Linked DNA regions of Homo sapiens: all the other regions are linked to region 1. Evidence: fine-mapped expression QTL. A gene starts in region 1. Each other region holds a variant in brackets. All regions are shown on one strand. Distances are between the middles of the regions.

Evidence for each region. PIP is the estimated chance that this variant, and not a neighbour inherited with it, causes the effect.
Region 2: its variant is the best candidate, but not a certain one, in a credible set for the expression of BRD3 in blood mononuclear cells (TOPMed, PIP 0.89).
Region 3: its variant is the best candidate, but not a certain one, in a credible set for the expression of BRD3 in monocytes after interferon gamma (Fairfax 2014, PIP 0.70).
Region 4: its variant is the best candidate, but not a certain one, in a credible set for the expression of BRD3 in whole blood (INTERVAL, PIP 0.88).

Annotation. Positions count from the first base shown.
Region 1 is chr9:134,065,299-134,070,298 of GRCh38, forward strand. BRD3 (bromodomain containing 3) reads right to left here and starts at 2,728. Exons shown (of 12, transcript NM_007371.4): 1 at 2,647-2,728. RefSeq lists silencers at 2,174-2,423, 2,604-3,333.
Region 2 is chr9:134,017,842-134,022,841 of GRCh38, forward strand. No RefSeq gene overlaps it. Among named protein-coding and RNA genes, the nearest start is that of BRD3OS, 5.1 kb to the right of the region's middle. The variant C/T (reference allele first, on the strand shown) is at 2,092.
Region 3 is chr9:134,009,734-134,014,733 of GRCh38, forward strand. No RefSeq gene overlaps it. Among named protein-coding and RNA genes, the nearest start is that of BRD3OS, 13 kb to the right of the region's middle. The variant G/C (reference allele first, on the strand shown) is at 1,885.
Region 4 is chr9:134,039,806-134,044,805 of GRCh38, forward strand. BRD3 (bromodomain containing 3) reads right to left here. Exons shown (of 12, transcript NM_007371.4): 8 at 1,955-2,146; 9 at 229-464. Among named protein-coding and RNA genes, the nearest start is that of BRD3OS, 17 kb to the left of the region's middle. The variant TACACACAC/T (reference allele first, on the strand shown) is at 2,987.

The DNA.
Region 1 (5,000 bases):
CTGTAATCCCAGCTACTTGGGAGGCTGAAGCAGGAGAATTGCTAGAACCCGGGAGGTAGAGGTTACAGTGGGCTGAGATCGTGCCACTGCACTCCAGCCTGGGCAACAATGCGAGACTCCATCTCAAGAGGAGAAGAGAAAAAAAAAAAAAAAGGAACCTGCCTAGGACAGGAACCCCGTCAGGTCAGTTATACTTTGATGACCGGTCAAGGAAGCAAGAGGAGGATCCTCTGACCAACTGCGTTAACTGCTTTGAAAACCAAGAGACCCGCAGCACGACTTCAGGCATGCCCCCACCTCCCAGGCAGCAACGCTGGGAAGAGTAGGCCCCGGTTCCCCATACCCCGCCCCGGTACCGTGTGTATCCACAGCAAAACATGGCTCTTCCCATCGACAACTGGGCATAGCTGTTGGTTTTGTGCCAATCACCCCACTTGGGAAACCCTGAGCCACCATGCCTCAGGGAAAGTGGTGGCACTTCCTGGTGGCACCAGGAATCGCACAAGGCCATCACTGCCGCCTGGTGCACAGGGCTCCCGCGGCTGGCATCTCCAGAGCCTGGAGGAAGAGGGTAGAGGAAGGTAGCACCGGCTGCAGCAGGCCTGGCTGCTTCGCTCTGCACACCCCCACTTTCACTTTCTGGGTATGACTACTTCGGAGTGTAGGGCAGGCACTGTTTGCAAGTCCCGTCCTTCATTCAAAGCTCACTCACTTCCGAAGCAGGCGCGAGCTGTTGTCAAAGGAAAGTAATTACTCTACTTTCTAAAAACAAAACAAAAATAAAAATGGAGTGACTGCCCACTCGGAGAAAGCTTTTGAAATCCCTCCTCCCCGGATGTCCCAACGGCAGGGCTCAGGCTGGAGCTGCTCCCACAGTCTTTCCAGGCACCCGGTGCCCTGCTGAGGCACCGGGCCTCTGAGGCTACCCGGAAGGTCAGAAAGAAATGCCCCTCGCTCGCCTGCAGCCCGTCCTGTTACAGCGTGTGCCTTATCTTTCATGATCAGTAACCACCAGCACCCATCAAGGCCTCAACAGAGAAAACGGCAAACACAGACCTTTATTTGCAAATGAGAGGCTGCATCAGGGCTGCCAGGGAAGAACCCGGAGGGAGGGCTCCCTAACCCCCGAGGCCAGCCCCTTGCAGGGGTTCAGACCTTCCTTAGACCCCGTTGGAAGCCAGTAACAAACTACTTTCCCCAGAAAAATGCCATACAACTTTGCATAGATTCCAGGATCTCCCCAGGCATACTACATGGACCCAGGAAAAAAAAAAAACCCTCCATTTTAAAGAAAAGAGTAAGGGGAAAAGCCTACAAAAGAGCAGGGTAAAAAGAAAACTCTTTTCCTCTTCTGTTCCTTCTCACAGGGTAGGGCGGGGGAGGACGGGACACACGAAGCTGCCTCTTGCAGTTCCAGCCCAATTACTCTGCCCACCAATGCACTACAGTCTCCCCTCCTGGTTAACTTTTGCAGACAATGACCAAGTTTAATGTAAGGGGGAGAAATCCCAGTATCTATTTCTGAGCAGAAAGCTTTCAACCAAAATTAAAGATCGCAACCACTCAAGGATTGGGTCGAACGGAGGAACCCACACGATGGACGCCGGGTCCCTGCCCCCGGTGGGTCTCGGCGGGCCGAGTTCTCGCCCTCCAGGGAAAGGAGGCCGCGCGAAGCCCCCATCCCGGCCCTGCCCCCGAACGAGCAACCGGTGGAATAAGACTTCCCGCACGCCCCAGCTTTATTCACAGAGAGCCCACCAGGGCCATGTGGGTGTACACGGTTCGGGGTGCGCATTTCTCCCCGGATGGGCTTGTATCACGTTGTCACTCCGGCGCCCCCCAAAAGTGGGAAGGAGGGGAAGCACCCCCGTCCCTCCCGCTCCAACTCGCCCTCGCCCGGATTAAGCGATTTTCAGGCTGATTTCAAAACGGGAACTGGGTCTCCCCCTGGTTTGGGTGCAATAATCCGGCAACTCAGGGGGGCTCAAAGTCAGCTCTGGGCCCGTAACTCTGGGAGGAGGCCGCGCAGAGCCCAGGGCCGAGCCCGGCCTTGCCCCCCGCCCCGGCCGCGGCGCGCGGCGACGGTCCCCAGGCGCGGGCCCCAGCAACGGCTCGGGAGCGAGGCCGGCGGAACAGGCGCGGGGAAAGTGGCCCCGCGGAGCGCACGGCCGCAGGCCGGGGCCGCCGCGCGCACCTTCCCCCTCCGCGTCCTCCCTGGGTTCCCCCTTCGAAAGATGGCGGGCGGAGGAAAGGGGGAAAAAAATCCCTTCCGTGAGGGAGGGCGCGCGGAGGCCGGGCTGGCGCGGGGCGCGCGGGCCGCGCCAACTCCGGGCTGCGCGCCCCGGCCGCAGCGACGCCCCGAGTCCGGGACGGAGGCGGCCAAGCGGGAGCGGGAGGAGGGGAGCGGAGCCCGCGCCACCGCCGCCGCCACCGCCGCCGCGACCCCGGGCGGCCGCCGCGCTTTGTTGCATCGTGGCCGCGCACAAAGGCGGCGGCGGCGGCGGCGGCCCCGGGCGCCCGGTTCACCCGGACGCGCCGGCGGACTGCGCGGGGCGCTCGGGGCCGCGCTCCCCGGCCCAGCCCGGCCCGCCGCCGCCCGCGCCGCCCGCCGCCCCGCGCGCGCAAGGAAGCAAGAGAAAGGCGTACTTGGCCTCGCGGCTCCGGCGGCCGTCCCCTCCCGGCCCGCGCGGCCGGCTCCTCTTTGGCTCGCCGGCCCCGGCAGCATAATAGACGCGCCGGAGCCGAGCAGGGCTCATGCGCTGCGCCGCGGCGCCTGGCGGGAGTCGTAGTCCGCGGCCGGGCCCGCGCCGGGGCCGCCCAGGGGAGGCCGCGGGCGCGCGGACTACATGTCCCGGCCCCGCCGGCGCCGCGCCCCGCCCCGGGGGCCCCCGCCCGCCCCGCCGACCCGGCCGAGAGCGGGCCTGGCCCGGGGGGCGCGCGGGGGCGGGGCTCGGCGCCCGCCCGGCAGGGCAACAACGCTGGGACCCCGTGGGCCGTTCCCCGCCCGGGCCCGCACGGCTCTCCTCACCCCGTGTCGGGGACAGCGCCTGGCGGCGGATTTTCCGGTGCCCCAGGACGGCATGGAAGAAGCGGGCACGCAGCCAGCACCGCAGCCCCCGTCCGGGCACCCCGAGGCCCGCGGGAGCCACCCTCGAACCCCGGCCGCGCACGGGCGGGGCGGCGCGCACCTGCCGGGAGCCCGTGTTTGTAAACAAACCGCGCGCCTAATTAGCCTGGCGGGAGCGCGCGCGCGGGGCGGGGGGCGGGGCGTCGGTGCGCGCGGGCAGGTCGGCCCCGCCCGGGGAGGAGCCGCGCTCTGCCGCGCCCTCCGTGTCACCATCTCCCCCACCCGACTTGCTGGGGCGCGGGCGCCCAAGTTCGCTGTTGCTGGAGAGGGCGCCAAGTCCCCAGAGCTGGCGAAGAGTTAGGGGTGCTCCCAGCTCTGCCTGGGGACCTTCTCGCCCCAAGCCCCGGTTTCCCCATCTGCCCAGTGAGGGGCGGGAACTAGATACCAGGTTCCCAGCCTGAGATTCCGGGAGAGGGCCACCCCTGGCCCTTTTTCTGTATCTTGAAAGGTTCAGCCCGTGGACACGTTTTGCATCTTGTTTTGGGTGATGACGACTCGGGTTTACACATAAATCAAGTTGTGGGGGGGGGGGTTTTGTTGTTTTTTTGGTTTTTGTTTTTTTTTTTTTTTTTTGAGACGTTAGTTTCGCTCTTGTCACCCAGGCTGGAGTGCTGTAGTGTAGTGAGTGGCTCGATCTCGGCTCACTGCAACGTCCGCCTCCCGGGTTCAAGCCATTCTCCTGGCTCAGCCTCCCGAGTAGCTGAGATTACAGGCACCCGCCACCACGCCCGGCTAATTTTTGTATTTTTTAGTAGAGATGGGGTTTCACCGTGTTGACTGGGCTGTTCTCAAACTCCTGACGTGAGATGATCCGCCCACCGCGGACTCCCAAAGTGCTGGGATTACAAGCGTGAGCCAACGCACCCGGCCACATAAATCAATTTTAATCCAGCTGTAACTTAAGGTGGTTACACGTTGTGTACATTAGACCCCAATAAAAACGTCAAAAACAAAACGAGGTTCCTTGGTGCCTGCTGAACCTGCCAACTGCAAGGTCGAGTTTCCTTGTGTGGGCTGCACCCACCCCAAGCCCCTGGGGTCCCCAGGTGTGTTCCAAGTTGAGCAGCAGCTCCACTGCCTGAAATGCACACATCTATGCAATATTCACAAAGTGAGTGCCAGCACAGAGACAATTCATCCCCATGCTCACCCAGAAGGCAGGTGTTCTGTTCCAGGCTGACAGGTAAGGAAACAGGCTCAGTGAGGCAAAGGGTCCTGCCCAAGGTCACAGAGCCAATTTGCAGGACGGCTGAGACCCAAAGCCCCGGGGTCTTAGGAAGAGTTTGCAGGGGAAGCCAACACCTTTCCCAATCCTGTCCCTCTGTTTCTGCTGGGAGCCCAGGACCTTCTCACACTCCAGGGCAAGGCTCTAGGACGAGGTTCCAGCCTTGCCTTTCTAGTTGGCAAAATGGACAAAGTGCAGTCCTCAGGCGCAGGAAGGTCGGGGAGGGGGAATATGAGAGGTGAGGATCTGCAGGCAGTTCCCTTAGAACTACCATCCTGGTTGTGTCCCCAAACCCCCGGTGCAGTTCCTCAACCTACAGGCTTCTGTGTTAGCCACCTTGGAGGCTGCAACCCATTCCTGCTGTCTGCATCTCATCTCCTTGGGTATCTTGAGCACTCTGACCACCAGGATGGCCACCTCACCACTTACACAGACCCCACTGCACTCCTCCCAAGGCTAGAACAAAAAGCCTTTCCGCCTGGTCTTGACCTCAAGGAACCCAGGTACATGCACACAGCAGGCTGCCCTGACCAGCCAGCGTGTCTGAGGCTGCTGACCAAATGCCCCCAACCCTTATGGGCCTCCCACTGCCCTAAGGTGACCCCCAGGAGTATGGCAGGAACCCAGGCGCTCCCTGGGCACTGGCTC
Region 2 (5,000 bases), 47 kb before region 1:
GGCATGGTGGTGGGCGCCTGCAGTCCCAGCTACTTGGGAGGCTGAGGCAGGAGAATGGCGTGAACCCAGGAGGCAGAGTTTGCAGTGAGCAGAGATCACGTCACTGCACTCCAGCCTGGGCGACAGAGACTCTGTCTCAAAAAAAAAAAAAAAAAAAAGATCAGACCCACCTGTATTAGACTCTCATTTAATTTCTCCTAAATCCGGGAAACGCCTAGAAAGGAAAGGCCAGGCTCCTAATAGAGATTCTTTACAGATGCAAATTTCCCCCACAGAAGACGGCTTTGCAGGGCCATTCCAAAATATGTCAAAGAAATGTATTTGGGGGCTGGGCACGGTGGCTCATGTCTGTAACCCCAGCACTTTGGGAGGCCGAAGCCAGTGGATCACCTGAAGTCAGGAGTTCGAGATCAGCCTGACCAATATGGTGAAACCCCGTCTGTACTAAAAATACAAAAATTAGCTGGGCGTGGTGGCGGGCGCCTGTAATCCCAGCTACTCAGGAGGCTGAGGCAGGGGAACTGCTTGAACCTGGTGGTGGAGATTGCAGTGAGCCAAGATCGTGGCACTGCACTCCAGCCTGGGCGACAGAGCGAGACTCCATCTCAAAAAAATAAAGAAATATATTTTGAGGTAAAATATTTTCCTTTCCTTCAGGGTCTGCTATCTGTCATGTGGTGCTATACAAGGGTCTGGTTGGAATTTGGTATCTTGTTGCCATAAAGAGTCTGTTTTGGCAGGGCGCGGGGGCTCACGCCTGTAATCCCAGTACTTTGGGAGGCCAAGGCAGGTGGATCACGAGGTCAAGAGATCGAGACCATCCTGGCCAACATGTTGAAACCCCATCTCTAGTAAAAATACAAAAATTATCTGGGCATGGTGGCGCACGCCTGTAGTCCCAGCTACTCGGGAGGCTGAGGCAGAAGAATCGCTTGAACCCAGGAGGCAGAGGTTGCAGTGAGCTGAGATCACGCCACTGCACTCCAGCCTGGCAACAGAGACTCTGTCTCAAAAAAAAAAAAAAAGTCTGTTTTGTCAGTCTCACGACCTCTATTTTAATGATGCTGGCCAGTGGTGCCTAAACTCCAAAAGGGAGAGGGGAGAACGAGACATGTCCAGCCTCCCTTCTTGTCATGGCCAGGAATGCTGTTTTTCAGGTTTCTCTGGGGTCCCCTTAGCCAAGAAGGGGTCTGTTCAGTCCACCAGGGGCTTAGGATTTTTATTTATTTATTTATTTTTTTAAAGCTTTTTTTTTTTTTTTTTTTTGAGACGGAGTTTCACTCGTCTCCCAGGCTGGAGTGCAATGGTGTGATCTCGGCTCATTGCAACCTCCACCTCCCGGGTTCAAGCAATTCTCCTGTCCCAGCCTCCCAAGTAGCTGGGATTACAGGTGCCCGCCACCACACCCAGCTAATTTTTGTATTTTTAGTAGAGACAGGGTTTCATCATATTGGTCAGGCTGGTCTCAAACTCCTGACCTCAGGTGACCTGCCCACCTTGGCCTCCCAAAGTACTGAGATTACAGGCGTGAGCCACCGTGCCTGGCCCTTAAAACTTTTTTGAGATAGGGTCTCACTCTGTCGCCAAGGCTGGAGTACAGTGGTGCAACCACAGCTCACTGCAGCCTTGACCTCTCGGGCTCAAGCATTGCTCCCACTTTAGCCTCCCAAGTAACTGGGACTTCAGGTACACACCATCATGCCTGGCTAATTTTTTGTATTTTTATTTAAAAAGGGGTTTTACCATGCTGCCCAGGCTGATCTTGAACTCCTGGGCTCAAGCAATCCACCCGCCTTGGCCTCCCAAAATGTTGGGATTACAGGCATGAGCCAACATGGCTGGCCAGGATTTTATTTTTGGTTTGCAACCTAAAAGGAAGAAGCTGAGGAAAAATTAATGTAAGTAGAGAGTTTATTTGGGCCAAGCTTGAGGGCTGCAACCCGGAGCATGCAAGTTGCCCTGAACATCCACTCCAGTTAGTAGCGGTTACTAGAGGATTTTTAAAGGAAAAGAAGGGGAGTTCCTGAATTGTTTACCAAAAATTTACATTAAAATAACAAGCTATTGATTGGCTATCCATTGTTTTTTATA[C/T]ACATATTCCAGGAACATGAAGACAATGGGTGGGGCAGCTAGACAGGAACAAAAAGACTTTTTTTTTTCCTTTGAGACGCAGTCTGTCTCTGTTGCCCAGGCTGGAGTGCAGTGGCGCAATCTCAGCTCACTGCAACCTCCGCCTCCCGGGCTCAAGCGATTCTCCTGCCTCAGCCTCCCCAGTAGCTGGGATTACAGGCACCCACCACTACGCCTGGTTAATTCTTTGTATTTTTAGTAGAGACAGGGTTTCACTATGTTGGCCAGGCTGGTCTCCAACTCCTGACCTCGTGATCCACCCGCCTCAGCCTCCCAAAGTGCTAGGATTACAGGTGTGAGCCACCTCGCCCAGCCCTGTCTTATTAATTTTAATAATTTGTCTGAGATTCTCCTGAATTTGTACTGTTAATTGAAAAAAGAACCCCACAATATCCATAAATACTCTGTTGCCCAGGCTGGAGTACAGTGATGCAATCATGACTCGCTGCGACCGCTGCCTCCTGGGCTCAAGCAACCCTCCTGCCTCAGCCTCCCAGGTAGCTGGGACTATAGGTGCCTTTCACCATGCCCAGGTACTTTTTGTAGAAATGGGGTTTTGCCATGTTGGCCAGGCTGGTCTTGAACTCCTGAGTTTAAGTGATCTGCCCGCCTTGGCCTCCCAAATTGCTGGGACTACAGGTGTGAGCCACTGCGCCTGGGTGACTTTCTTTCTCATAAAGGGTTACAGCCAGCAAGGTGGCCATCCCACAGGCTGGAAAATGTGCCTCTGAAGGAGGAGGGGTTGGGGCAGGAGCTCCATGCTGAACAGGTTGGCTAAACATACACATTCAACAGGTTATAGGAGGAGCTATGAATATTCATGAAGGTCCTGACAACATGCATACTGAACAAACATGCATGTAACATACAACTCATGTTCACCTTGGGGTGGAGACTTAGCATCAAAATGTACTAAAATTAGGCCTTATAGGCTGGGTGCAGTGGCTCGCGCCTGTAATCCCAGCACTTTGGGAGGCTGAGGTCTGGCCAATACGGTGAAACCCAGTCTCTACTAAAAATAAAAAAAAAACTAGCTGGGCACCGTGGTGCACACCTGTAGTCTTAGCTACTTGGGAGGCTGAGGCAGGAGAATCACTTGAACCCAGGAGGCGGAGGTTGCAGTGAGCCGAGATGGCACCACAGCACTCCAGCCTGGGCAATAGTGGGAGACTCCGTCTCAAATAAATAAAAATATATACATACATAAAATAAAATTAGGCCTTATAGTAAAAAGGTCTTTCCAGGACACAAAAGCACACAAGTATGCAGCCTCTCTGAACCAGCCGGAACCAATCCATAGTCAGTGGTCTTACCTGGAGAAAGTTGCTGAAATCAGTCTCTTGTTCAATGAAAGCTGTAGTTGGCTGGGCATAGTGGCTCACACCTGTAGTCCCAGCACTTTGGGAGGCCACGATGGGAGGATTGTTTAAGCCCAGGAATTTGAGATCAGCCTAGGCAACATGGCAAAACCCCATCTCTACCAAAAATACAAAAAGTAGCTGGGTGCAAACTCCACCTCCCGGGTGGACCTACTGGTACACCTAGTGGTGCACACCTGTAGGCCCAGCTACTTGGGAGGCTGAGGTGGGAGGATTGCTTGAGGCTGGGAGGTTGAAGCTGCACTCAGCCAGGATTGCACCACTGCACTCTAGCCTGGAGGACAGAGTGAGACGCTGTTTCAAAAGAAGAGAAAGCTAGTTATGGTGGGTGAATGGGGTCAGTTAGCATCTGGAGCTGGATGAGCTGCAAATCGTTTTAACATTGTTTATCTTGAGGTCAGTACTTACTTAGCTGCTAGAGAAAAGGAACAACCTCGTGGCAGTGAGAATAGAGTTTATTCTTTAATTGTAGAGGTGTAGGACTTAACTTGTGCCTGGCATGGCCCTAAATCTTATTAATTAATTAATTTATTTATTTTTGGAATCAGAGTCTCACTTTGTCACCCAGACTGGAGTGCAGTTGTGCCATCTTGGCTCACTGCAACCTCCACCTCCTGGGTTCAAGTGGTTTTCCTGCCTCAGCCTCCCAAGTAGCTGGGATTACAGGCATGCGCCACTATGTCCAGCTAATTTTTGTATTTTTTGTAGAGATGGGGGTTCACCATGTTGGCCAGGCTGGTCTCGAACTCTCAGCCTCAAGTGATCTGCCCGCCTTGGACTCTCAAAGTGCTGGGATTACAGATGTGAGTCACCATGCCCAGCCACAGGTCTTATTTATAATTTGGTATGTTATCGCCATAAAGAGTCTGTTTTTCAGTCTTCTATGTTTTCAGTCTTACATATTTTAACGCAAATGCTAGTGCCTTGTCTCTAAGTCACCAAAGGGAGGAGTTATAACGACATGAGTGGGCTCTCCTATCCCATCGTGGCTGGGAACTCAGTTTTAAGTTTTTTCTGAGGTCCCCTTGGCCAAGAGGGGATCCGTTCAGTCAGTGAGGAGTTTAGGATTTTATTTTTAGTTTATATTCCCTTCTTTTGGCCAAGATTTGCCAGAGATGGCATTGATGACCAAACTTTTATTTTGTCCTATATCGTTGCTGGGGCTGTGTGCTACCTGCACTGGGTCCATCTTGTCCCTTGGTGGGATCCCTATGGCCAAGAGACTTAGAGCCAAAAGACTGAAAGACAGCTAATTAAATGTTTTAGGACAGATAGGAAAGGAGATGGGCAGGCACTCATTCACCCTTAAAAACCTTTTGTGCAGCCAGGTGCGGTGGCTTATGCCTGTAATCCTAGCACTTTGGGAGTCTGAGGCGGGTGGATCACGAGGTCAGGAGTTTGAGACCAGCCTGATCAACATAGTGAAACCCTGTCTCCACTAAAAATACAAAATGAGCCAGGCATGGTGGCACATGCCTGTAACCCTAGCTA
Region 3 (5,000 bases), 56 kb before region 1:
CTCCAACCTGGGCAACAAAGGCGAAACTCAAAACAAAAAAAAAAAACCCCAAAAACTGCGTTATTGAGATATAATTCACATACCATAAGATTCCTTTATTTAAAGTGTATAATTCAAAGCTTCCTAGTATATTCACAGACCTGTGCAACCATCACCCAACTGAAGTTTAGAAAATTTTCATCTCTCTAAAAGAAACCCCGTTCCTATTAGCCATGACTCTCCAGCCCACCCCACCCAACCCCAGCCTCTGGCAACCGCAAATCCACTGGCTGTCTCTCCGAATGTGCCTGCTCCAGACAGTTCACAGAAAGGGAGTCATATAATCCGTGTACTTTGTGTACACTGTTCTCAGGTTTACCGCCATGTTCCAGCCCTTCACTTCTTCCTAATCCCTGGATAGTATTGCATACATGCATCCACACTGACTCCTGAGCAGTTGTGAATGTCTGGCTGGATGGTTAGGATGGTTAAGGACTTGGAAATGAATGGATTGGGAGCAAGGTGTCTGGGAGTTCTGGGACCAAGTACCAGATGGACAGCTGTGGGGATAGCTGTGCCGGGCGGGTGTCTCTGAGGTCTGTTCGCTTCAGAGGGGCTCTCGGTGCTCAGATCTCCACAGCTGCCCCCTCTGCAGGCATCATCAGCCTCTTTTCCCAGCTCTCCCGTGCATGTTTGATGGGCTCCAAGTGTGGAGTGGGGGAAGGGTGGAGGCTGGGCATGGACGGCAGCATGGACCTCCCCCTCCAGAGCTGACCTGTGCACTGCCACTGCTGGGCACCTGACCTGCTGATTAAAAAAAAAAAAAAAGAACCTGGCCCTGAGCTCCCAGTAGGACACCATCACCTGGGGAAGCAGCCAGCCAAGTGGCAGCAGGTTGATGCCATTGGACTTCGTTCCCCATGGAGGAGAAGGGGGCTCGGCCTCATTGGAATAGACACGGTTGCTTTTCCTGCACACAGTCCTTCTGCCAGCCCTGTCATCCATGCCAAGATGCTTTGCCAGCTGCCATGGTGTCCCGCACAACATGGCTTCCAAGCAAGAAACTCACTCCTGAGCAAAAGAAGTTACCGGACTGACTACAGGCCCCTTTCCCGAAGTGCCGCCTGATAAAAGGAATGGACAGGCCACGTGGTTAGCGTGCTGTTACCAAGTGAGGACAGTGACGGCACCTCTGGAAAAACGCCATCATGGAAGTTCGAGGGCCTCATCTGCAGATTAAAGTGTATGCTTTGAACCAGAGACAAACAGATCACGCTGTCTTCCCAGCAGCTGGACGACATGTGTCCAGGAACCAGGGCTCAGAAGGGCAGTGGCTCCTGTGACTGGTACTTCTGATAAGCCTTTAACTTGGCAGCCTGCCCACCCACAGTGGCGGGCTCTGATGGCTCAGAAGTCTTGGTTCTCAAGCAAGGAATGTTTCGACCAAGGAATTCAATGATGGTTCCTCTGATTTGGAAAATGAGACTACCACTTGGCAATTTGGTGTCCTCATTCCACTGCATCAAAACACCGAGAAGCAGGGCCAGGCACGGTGGCTCACGCCTATAATCCCAACACTTTGGGAGGCCAAGGCAGGAAGATTGCTTGAGTCAAGGAGTTCGAGACCAGCCTGGGCAACATGGAAAAACCCTGTATCTACAAAAACAAAATTAAATACAAAATTAGCTGGGCATGGTGGCGCATGCCTGCAGTCCCAGCTACTAGGGAGGCTGAGGCAGGAGGATCGTCTGAACCCAGGAGGTGGAAGCTGCAGTGAGTCATGATTGAACCACTGTACTCCAGCCTGGGCATCAAAGCAAGACCCTGTCTCAAAAACAAAACAAAACCAAGAAGCACGTGACTTTACCAGCTGGGATGATTGATGCCTAATGCCAAGTAGAAAGT[G/C]AGTCATGGCTCTACACTGAGGCTCAGTGTATGTGGGAGCCCAGGGGATTTTCTGAGGTGCGTTTTAGTATTTCTACCCAACAGTAGAGGCTAATAGAAAGCTATAGCAACATGAACATAAACATATAAAGGGCAGGGTAATCTCGGGTTCATGCCCCTGGGGAGCGAAAGCATAAGTCAGCCTGCTGGCTAAAGAACCCCAAGCAGATGAGATGCTGCTGGCTGGTGGAGGAACCCTGGAAATGCCCACTGCGGGATACACTGTGGCCTCGGGACTGTGATACACCGCGGCCTCCGGACAGCGAAACACCGCGGCCCCGGGACTGCGAAACACCGCGGCCCCGGGACTGCGATACACCGCGGCCCCGGGACTGCGAAACACCGCGGCCCCGGGACTGCGATACACCGCGGCCCCGGGACTGCGAAACACCGCGGCCCCGGGACTGCGATACACCGCGGCCCCGGGACTGCGAAACACCGCGGCCCCGGGACTGCGATACACCGCGGCCCCGGGACTGCGAAACACCGCGGCCCCGGGACTGCGAAACACCGCGGCCCCGGGACTGCGATACACCGCGGCCCCGGGACTGCGATACACCGCGGCCCCGGGACTGCGATACACCGCGGCCCCGGGACTGCGATACACCGCGGCCCCGGGACTGCGATACACCGCGGCCCCGGGACTGCGATACACCGCGGCCCCGGGACTGTGAAACACCGCGGCCCCGGGACTGTGAAACACCGCGGCCCCGGGACTGTGAAACACCGCGGCCTCGGGACTGTGATACACCGCGGCCTCGGGACTGTGAAACACCGAGGCCTCGGGACTGTGATACACCGCGGCCTCGGGACTGTGATACACCGCGGCCTCGGGACAGTGAAACACCGCGGCCTCGGGACTGCGATACACCGCGGCCTCGGGACTGCGATACACCGCGGCCTCGGGACTGCGAAACACCGCGGCCTCGCGACTGCGATACACCGCGGCCCCGGGACTGCGATACACCGCGGCCCCGCGACTGCGATACACCGCGGCCCCGCGACTGCGATACACCGCGGCCCCGCGACTGCGATACACCGCGGCCCCGGGACTGCGATACACCGCGGCCCCGGGACTGCGATACACCGCGGCCCCGGGACTGCGATACACCGCGGCCCCGGGACTGCGAAACACCGCGGCCCCGGGACTGCGATACACCGCGGCCCCGGGACTGCGATACACCGCGGCCCCGGGACTGCGATACACCGCGGCCCCGGGACTGCGAAACACCGCGGCCCCGGGACTGCGATACACCGCGGCCCCGGGACTGCGAAACACCGCGGCCCCGGGACTGCGATACACCGCGGCCCCGGGACTGCGATACACCGCGGCCCCGGGACTGCGATACACCGCGGCCCCGGGACTGCGATACACCGCGGCCCCGGGACTGCGATACACCGCGGCCCCGGGACTGCGATACACCGCGGCCCCGGGACTGCGATACACCGCGGCCCCGGGACTGCGAAACACCGCGGCCCCGGGACTGCGATACACCGCGGCCCCGGGACTGCGAAACACCGCGGCCCCGGGACTGCGATACACCGCGGCCCCGGGACTGCGAAACACCGCGGCCCCGGGACTGCGATACACCGCGGCCCCGGGACTGTGAAACACCGCGGCCCCGGGACTGTGATACACCGCGGCCCCGGGACTGTGAAACACCGCGGCCCCGGGACTGTGATACACCGCGGCCCCGGGACTGTGAAACACCGCGGCCCCGGGACTGTGATACACCGCGGCCCCGGGACTGTGATACACCGCGGCCCCGGGACTGTGAAACACCGCGGCCCCGGGACTGTGATACACCGCGGCCCCGGGACTGTGAAACACCGCGGCCCCGGGACTGTGAAACACCGAGGCCTCGGGACTGTGATACACTGCGGCCTCGGGACTGTGATACACTGCGGCCTCGGGACAGTGAAACACTGCGGCCTCGGGACTGCGATACACTGCGGCCTCGGGACTGCGATACACTGCGGCCTCGGGACTGCGAAACACCGCGGCCTCGGGACTGCGATACACCGCGGCCCCGGGACTGCGAAACACCGCGGCCCCGGGACTGCGAAACACCGCGGCCCCGGGACTGTGATACACCGCGGCCCCGGGACTGTGATACACCGCGGCCCCGGGACTGTGAAACACCGCGGCCCCGGGACTGTGAAACACCGCGGCCCCGGGACTGTGAAACACCGCGGCCCCGGGACTGTGAAACACCGCGGCCCCGGGACTGTGATACACCGCGGCCCCGGGACTGTGATACACCGCGGCCCCGGGACTGTGATACACCGCGGCCCCGGGACTGTGAAACACCGCGGCCCCGGGACTGTGAAACACCGAGGCCTCGGGACTGTGATACACTGCGGCCTCGGGACTGTGATACACTGCGGCCTCGGGACAGTGAAACACTGCGGCCTCGGGACTGCGATACACTGCGGCCTCGGGACTGCGATACACTGCGGCCTCGGGACAGTGAAACACTGCGGCCTCGGGACTGTGAAACACTGCGGCCTCGGGACTGCGATACACTGCGGCCTCGGGACTGCGATACACTGCGGCCTCGGGACTGCGAAACACTGCGGCCTCGGGACTGCGATACACTGCGGCCTCGGGACTGCGAAACACTGCGGCCTCGGGACTGCGATACACTGCGGCCTCGGGACTGCGAAACACTGCGGCCTCGGGACTGCGATACACTGCGGCCTCGGGACTGTGAAACACTGCGGCCTCGGGACTGTGAAACACTGCGGCCTCGGGACTGTGATACACTGCGGCCTCGGGACTGTGAAACACTGCGGCCTCGGGACTGTGATACACTGCGGCCTCGGGACTGTGATACACTGCGGCCTCGGGACTGTGAAACACTGCGGCCTCGGGACTGTGATACACTGCGGCCTCGGGACTGTGATACACTGTGGCCTCGGGACTGTGATACACTGCGGCCTCGGGACTGTGAAACACTGCGGCCTCGGGACTGGTTGCAGGAACAAGGCTTGTATCAACTCCGTAGATTCCCTTGCCTATTAAGTATGTGTATGTTTGTATCTAGCTATTCCTTTTTTTTTTTCAATTAAGATGG
Region 4 (5,000 bases), 25 kb before region 1:
CTTCAATGCCCAGAATCCAGGCCAGCCCCGCAGACAACTGAGCAGCATCACCTGGGCCCCCGGACTTCCCAGCACAGGTCTCATCAGGCCCTCTGTCTCCCTGCCCCCATCACCCTGGTTTCCAGGTGGCCAAGGCACAAAGCCCCCAATCCCAGCACTGCTGCTACATGAGCCCCCATGGCGTGCTGAGCGCTGGGCTCTTGGAGCCCGAGCAGGTCTGGAGCCCACCTGCCGGCCGTGGTCGTGCTGTTGGCCTTCTTGGCAGGAGCCTTCTTCTGCTGAGCCTGCTTGGCAGGCGGAGCCACCTTGGCCTTCTTCTCTTCCTCGGCCTTCACTTTGTGCTTCTCCTTCTCCTTCTCCTTGTCCTTCTTCTTCTTCTCCTTCTCCTTCTTCTCCTTCTTCTTCTTTGGTTTGTTTACTGGGGCCTGAGACAGGGCGGCCAGCTGCTCGTGCACGGCCTTCAGCTGGAAAAGAGCGGGCGGCTGAGCAGGTGCTGGGCACGGCCCACACCACTGGGGCTGCGTGGCGCCCTGGGATTGGAGGGGGCTTGGGGCGATGTCGGAGCTGCCTCAGCTGGGTGAGGAGGTGAACCAGGAGCACCTGGGCCCTGCTCTGCCCCTCACTCCCGTGACCCCCAGTGAGTCATGAGCCCTCTCCGCCTCGGCTTCTTCGCCTGCAGTGGGGAAGAGCTGCCTGGCCACAGGCTCAGCACTGCGCGGGTGGCACAACAGGGACTCGGTGAGGGCAGCTAACTTTTTAAAAAAAATGTATTATACTTTAAGTTCGGGGATACATGTGCAGAATGTGCAGGTTTGTTACATAGGTATACATGTGCCACGGTAGTTTGCTGCACCCATCAACCCGTCATCTACATTAGGTGGGCAGCTAACATTTTTATTATTACCATTGTTCAGATAAGGAAGGACTCTCTAGAAGTTTAAATGCCCACACAAAGGAGATTTTCATCAGTGATTTCTGGGAAGCCATTTGATAACACGCAGGACTCCGGGGTTAAAACAATCCACTGCCAGCAACCAGCATTAATCCAGGGCCTCCCTGCAGCTGGCATTGTGCCAAGCGCCTCGCCCTCCCCACTGCAGCCACCTCCATGGGAGAGGCCCCTTGAGAGGCACTGCCCATGTGAGTCCACGGCCTGTCCCTGCCTCTGGGTGGTCTGTGCAAGGAAGACAGAGGGCGGGTGGAGGAGCTGCCACCTCACAGCCGTCTTCCCTGCTGTGTGTCCTTGCCACTTCAAAATCAAATGTCCAGCCCAACTCTGGGGACTGCAGGGCCATCGCTGTCCTTGCAGCCCTGATTCATGCTGTTCCCCTCCTGACTCGACAGCCCTGCTCTATTTTCTCCCAATCTGGGGTCCCAGAAATCATGCATCTGGCTGGCTGCCAGAGGTCTGGGGAAACAATTCACATCTTTCTCAATCTGACCTCAAGACAGCTCAGAGTGGGTGACATTTGTCCCATACTGCAAACGAGGAAAGCAGAGAAGGGGGAGGAAGCACAGCCTGGCAGCGGGACTGGGGCTGGGCAGCTGCACGGCAGGGCCCTCAGGACCCTGGAGCCTGCACCCCACCCCACTGCAAGTGACTGCTTGGAGCCCAGGCACTACTGTGGCCTCTGCAAGTGCCTCACAGGCCTTTCTGGAGCAGAGCAAGGCACACATAACCACACATGACCCCTGAGCTCCCACCTGAGGCCCGCCAGGTCTCCAGAAACATCCCAGCCACGTGTCCCCGCAGCCACCCACGTGTGCTGTGGGTTAGGCTCGCACCACCCCAGACCTGGGGAGGGCACTCCGAGTGTCTTTACGGGGAAGCACTACCGCGGCTGCTGAGGGACAGGGGCAGAGGAAGGAACCATGCAAAGGGACGGACCTTGGGCTGCTGTGCCAGCAATCCCGCCTCAGCCCCTGAACCCCACCCAAGCATGCCAGTGCCCACCTGCTCCTGCAGCTCCGCCAGCCTGGTGGCCCGCTCCTCCTCCGAGTCCGAGCTGCCTGAGTCCGAAGAGCTCTCCTCACTGCTACGGCTGCTCTCAGCGCCCTTGCTCACCATGGGGGCCGCGGGGGCAGGCAGCGCCGGTGCCTCCACGGGCTCATCTGGCATCTTGGCAAACCTCATCTCAAACACGTCCTGCGGCAGAACAGAGGCTGCCCTGAAGACATGGGTGCCCATGGGGCTGCCCCTTGGTGTGGGCCCTCAGGGTTTCTGAGGTGCCCCTGAGGCAGCACCCACAGCTGTTACGAAGGTGGGGCTAGGAGGAGACAGGGTCCCGCCTGCCTGGGGGGCTGTGGTTGCTTCCAGCTTGCCCACCCTCCCTCCCCAGGCAATTCCTGCGGACAGGCCTGGGAAGAGGGGACACAGGAGCTGGCCCACAGCTCCCTTCAGCAACTCCATGAGCCCTCTCTAGAAGATGCATGCATCCTTGTAGCCTCCTGGCCCAAAGCTCCCTGGGGCTGCCTCTGCTGTGAAACGGGAAACAGTGTCTTCCCTTGAGCTTGGACAGGGTCCTCCACAGCCACAGGAGTCCAAGAGTGTTGACCTCTTCCCATCTCTTCACCCCGGAACTGACTGCAGCATCACATCTCATGAACGGTGAACTCCAAAAGTTGGCTTAAAAGGCCAAAGTCTAGTCCTATCCATACTTTATTTACAAAAAAATATAAAAATTAGCCAGTCATGGCAGCACATGTCTGTGATCCTAGCTGCTCGGGAGGCTGCGATGGGTGGATTGCTTGAACCCAGGAGGTCGAGGCTGCAGTGAGCCGAAATCATGCCACTGCACTCCAGCCTGGGTGACAGAGTGAGACCCTGCCTCAAATATATATACACACACACACACACACACACACATATATATACACACACACACATATACACACACATATATATACACATATATACACATATATATACACACATATATACACATATATACACATATATACACACACACATATATATACACAAATA[TACACACAC/T]ACACACACACACACACACATTTTTAAGTTTTACTTTTACTAATTTTCTTTTTCTCTCAAGACAGAGTCTTGCTCTTTTGCCCAGGCTGGAGTGCAATGGCATGATCTCAGCTCACTGCATCCTCCACATCCTGATTTCAAGTGATTCTCCTGCCTCAGCCTCCTGAGTAGCTGGGATCACAGGCATGCGCCACTACTCCCGGCTAACTTTTTGTATTTTTAGTAGAGCCGAAGTTTCACCATGTTGGCCAGGCTGTTCTTGAACTCCTGACCTCGTGATCTGCCTGCCTTGGCCTCCTAAAGTGCTGGGATTATAGATGTGAGCCACCACGCCCGGCCTACTTTATTTTTTGTAGGGACAGGGTCCTGCTCTGTTGCCCAGGCTGGTCTTGAACCCCTGAGCTCAAGTGATCCTCCCACCCTGGCCTCCCAAAGTGCTGAGATTACAGGGGTAAGCCACCACACCCAGACTTCCTATCAAAATTGACTTTGGAAAGCCTTTGGACCAGGACCTAGGCCCTCCGTCACCCCTCTCAGCAAACATCCCCCTCCCTGGGGCAGCCCAGGCTCACTGAAGACAGGGAGGCACAGTGATGTGGAAATGAGGGGAGATTTCTTTTTGCCAAGCTCAGAAACCTGAATCCACACCGTCTGCTCACGTGACATGCCTTCACTGTTCAGGCTGGACCCAGCTCTGGAGAAGCCCACCCCAGGCTCTCATATCCCAGGCTCTCCTCTCAGGAGATGTCCCCAGAGGCAACCCAACCCACAGAGCAGCGGTCCAGGCCCCCGCTCGGCCGACAGCCTTGAAGGCCATGCAGGTCAGGTCGTTTTGCTGTTGGGCTCTAACCCCACAGCTCAACTGATAAAATTGCACAATTGCTAAATAGTGCTCAGTCATGGAAATCCATCAGCCTCAGGGTCTCCTCTGTTGCCCAGGCTGGAGTGCTGTGCAACCACAGCTCACTGCAGTCTCCAACGCCCGGGCTCAGGTGATCCTCCCATCTCACTTTCCTGAATAGCTGGTACTACAGGGACACACCACCACACCTGACTCGTTTTTAAAATCTGTTGTAGAGACAGCTCGTCTCAAACTCTTGGCCTCAAGTGATCCTCCCACCTCCGCCTCCCAAAGTGCTGGAATTACAGGCGTGAGCACCATGTCTATCCAACAGCACCTGTTTCAGGAGCAGGGGCAGAGCTGCCAGCTTCCCTGCTCGGTCTGCAAGCCTGGGTTTCCGTCCTCTATGCTCAGCTCCCTCGTTAAACTCAACCCAGTATTTACCAGGCTCCAGAGGACTGGCCTTTGCAAGGTCTTTTGGGTTCAAGACACAGTAAGCGAGGTCTCAGTATAAAACCAGGGTTCTGACGGCTTCCTCTGGATGTAGTGGGACCTCCAGGACCACCCTGCCATCATCACCCACAGGACCCAGTGCACAGAGAGGGTGGCAATGGCAGCAGTGCCTGGGAGAGGACCTTGGGTAGGCCCTGTGCGCGAGAGGGTGGGAAAGGCAGCAGGACCCACAGGGGGAACGAGTTTCTCTCTCTGCCCCTTTTATGGGTCCTGTGTCATCCACAATAATACCATGGGCTGCTCGGGGATTTCAAAACAGTCTATGCAAGGACTGAGAACATCTTAACATGACATTCTGGGTCCCGTGAAAAGGAAAAGCATGCTGGAAGAGAACACATACCCATAATTCTCCCCTTTCCTCCAAAAATCAAGTCCTTTGATTAACATTTATAACAGTGGTGCTGTTATTTATAAAAGCAAACCACCTGCGATCACAATTAGAGAAGGTAAGAATAGATTCTGGCACATCCACCCACACCAAAATATGTGTGCGGGACCTGGACTTTGGCAGAAAAATGCACACGCAGGCAGGAGCACACACACGCACACACGTCCACACACACACACAAATATCTCTGTGAGGTTTGTGCATGTTCACAAAGTCCCTGCGCTGAGAGCTAGACCAAGACACTCCTGTTTTCCCTGAAGACAT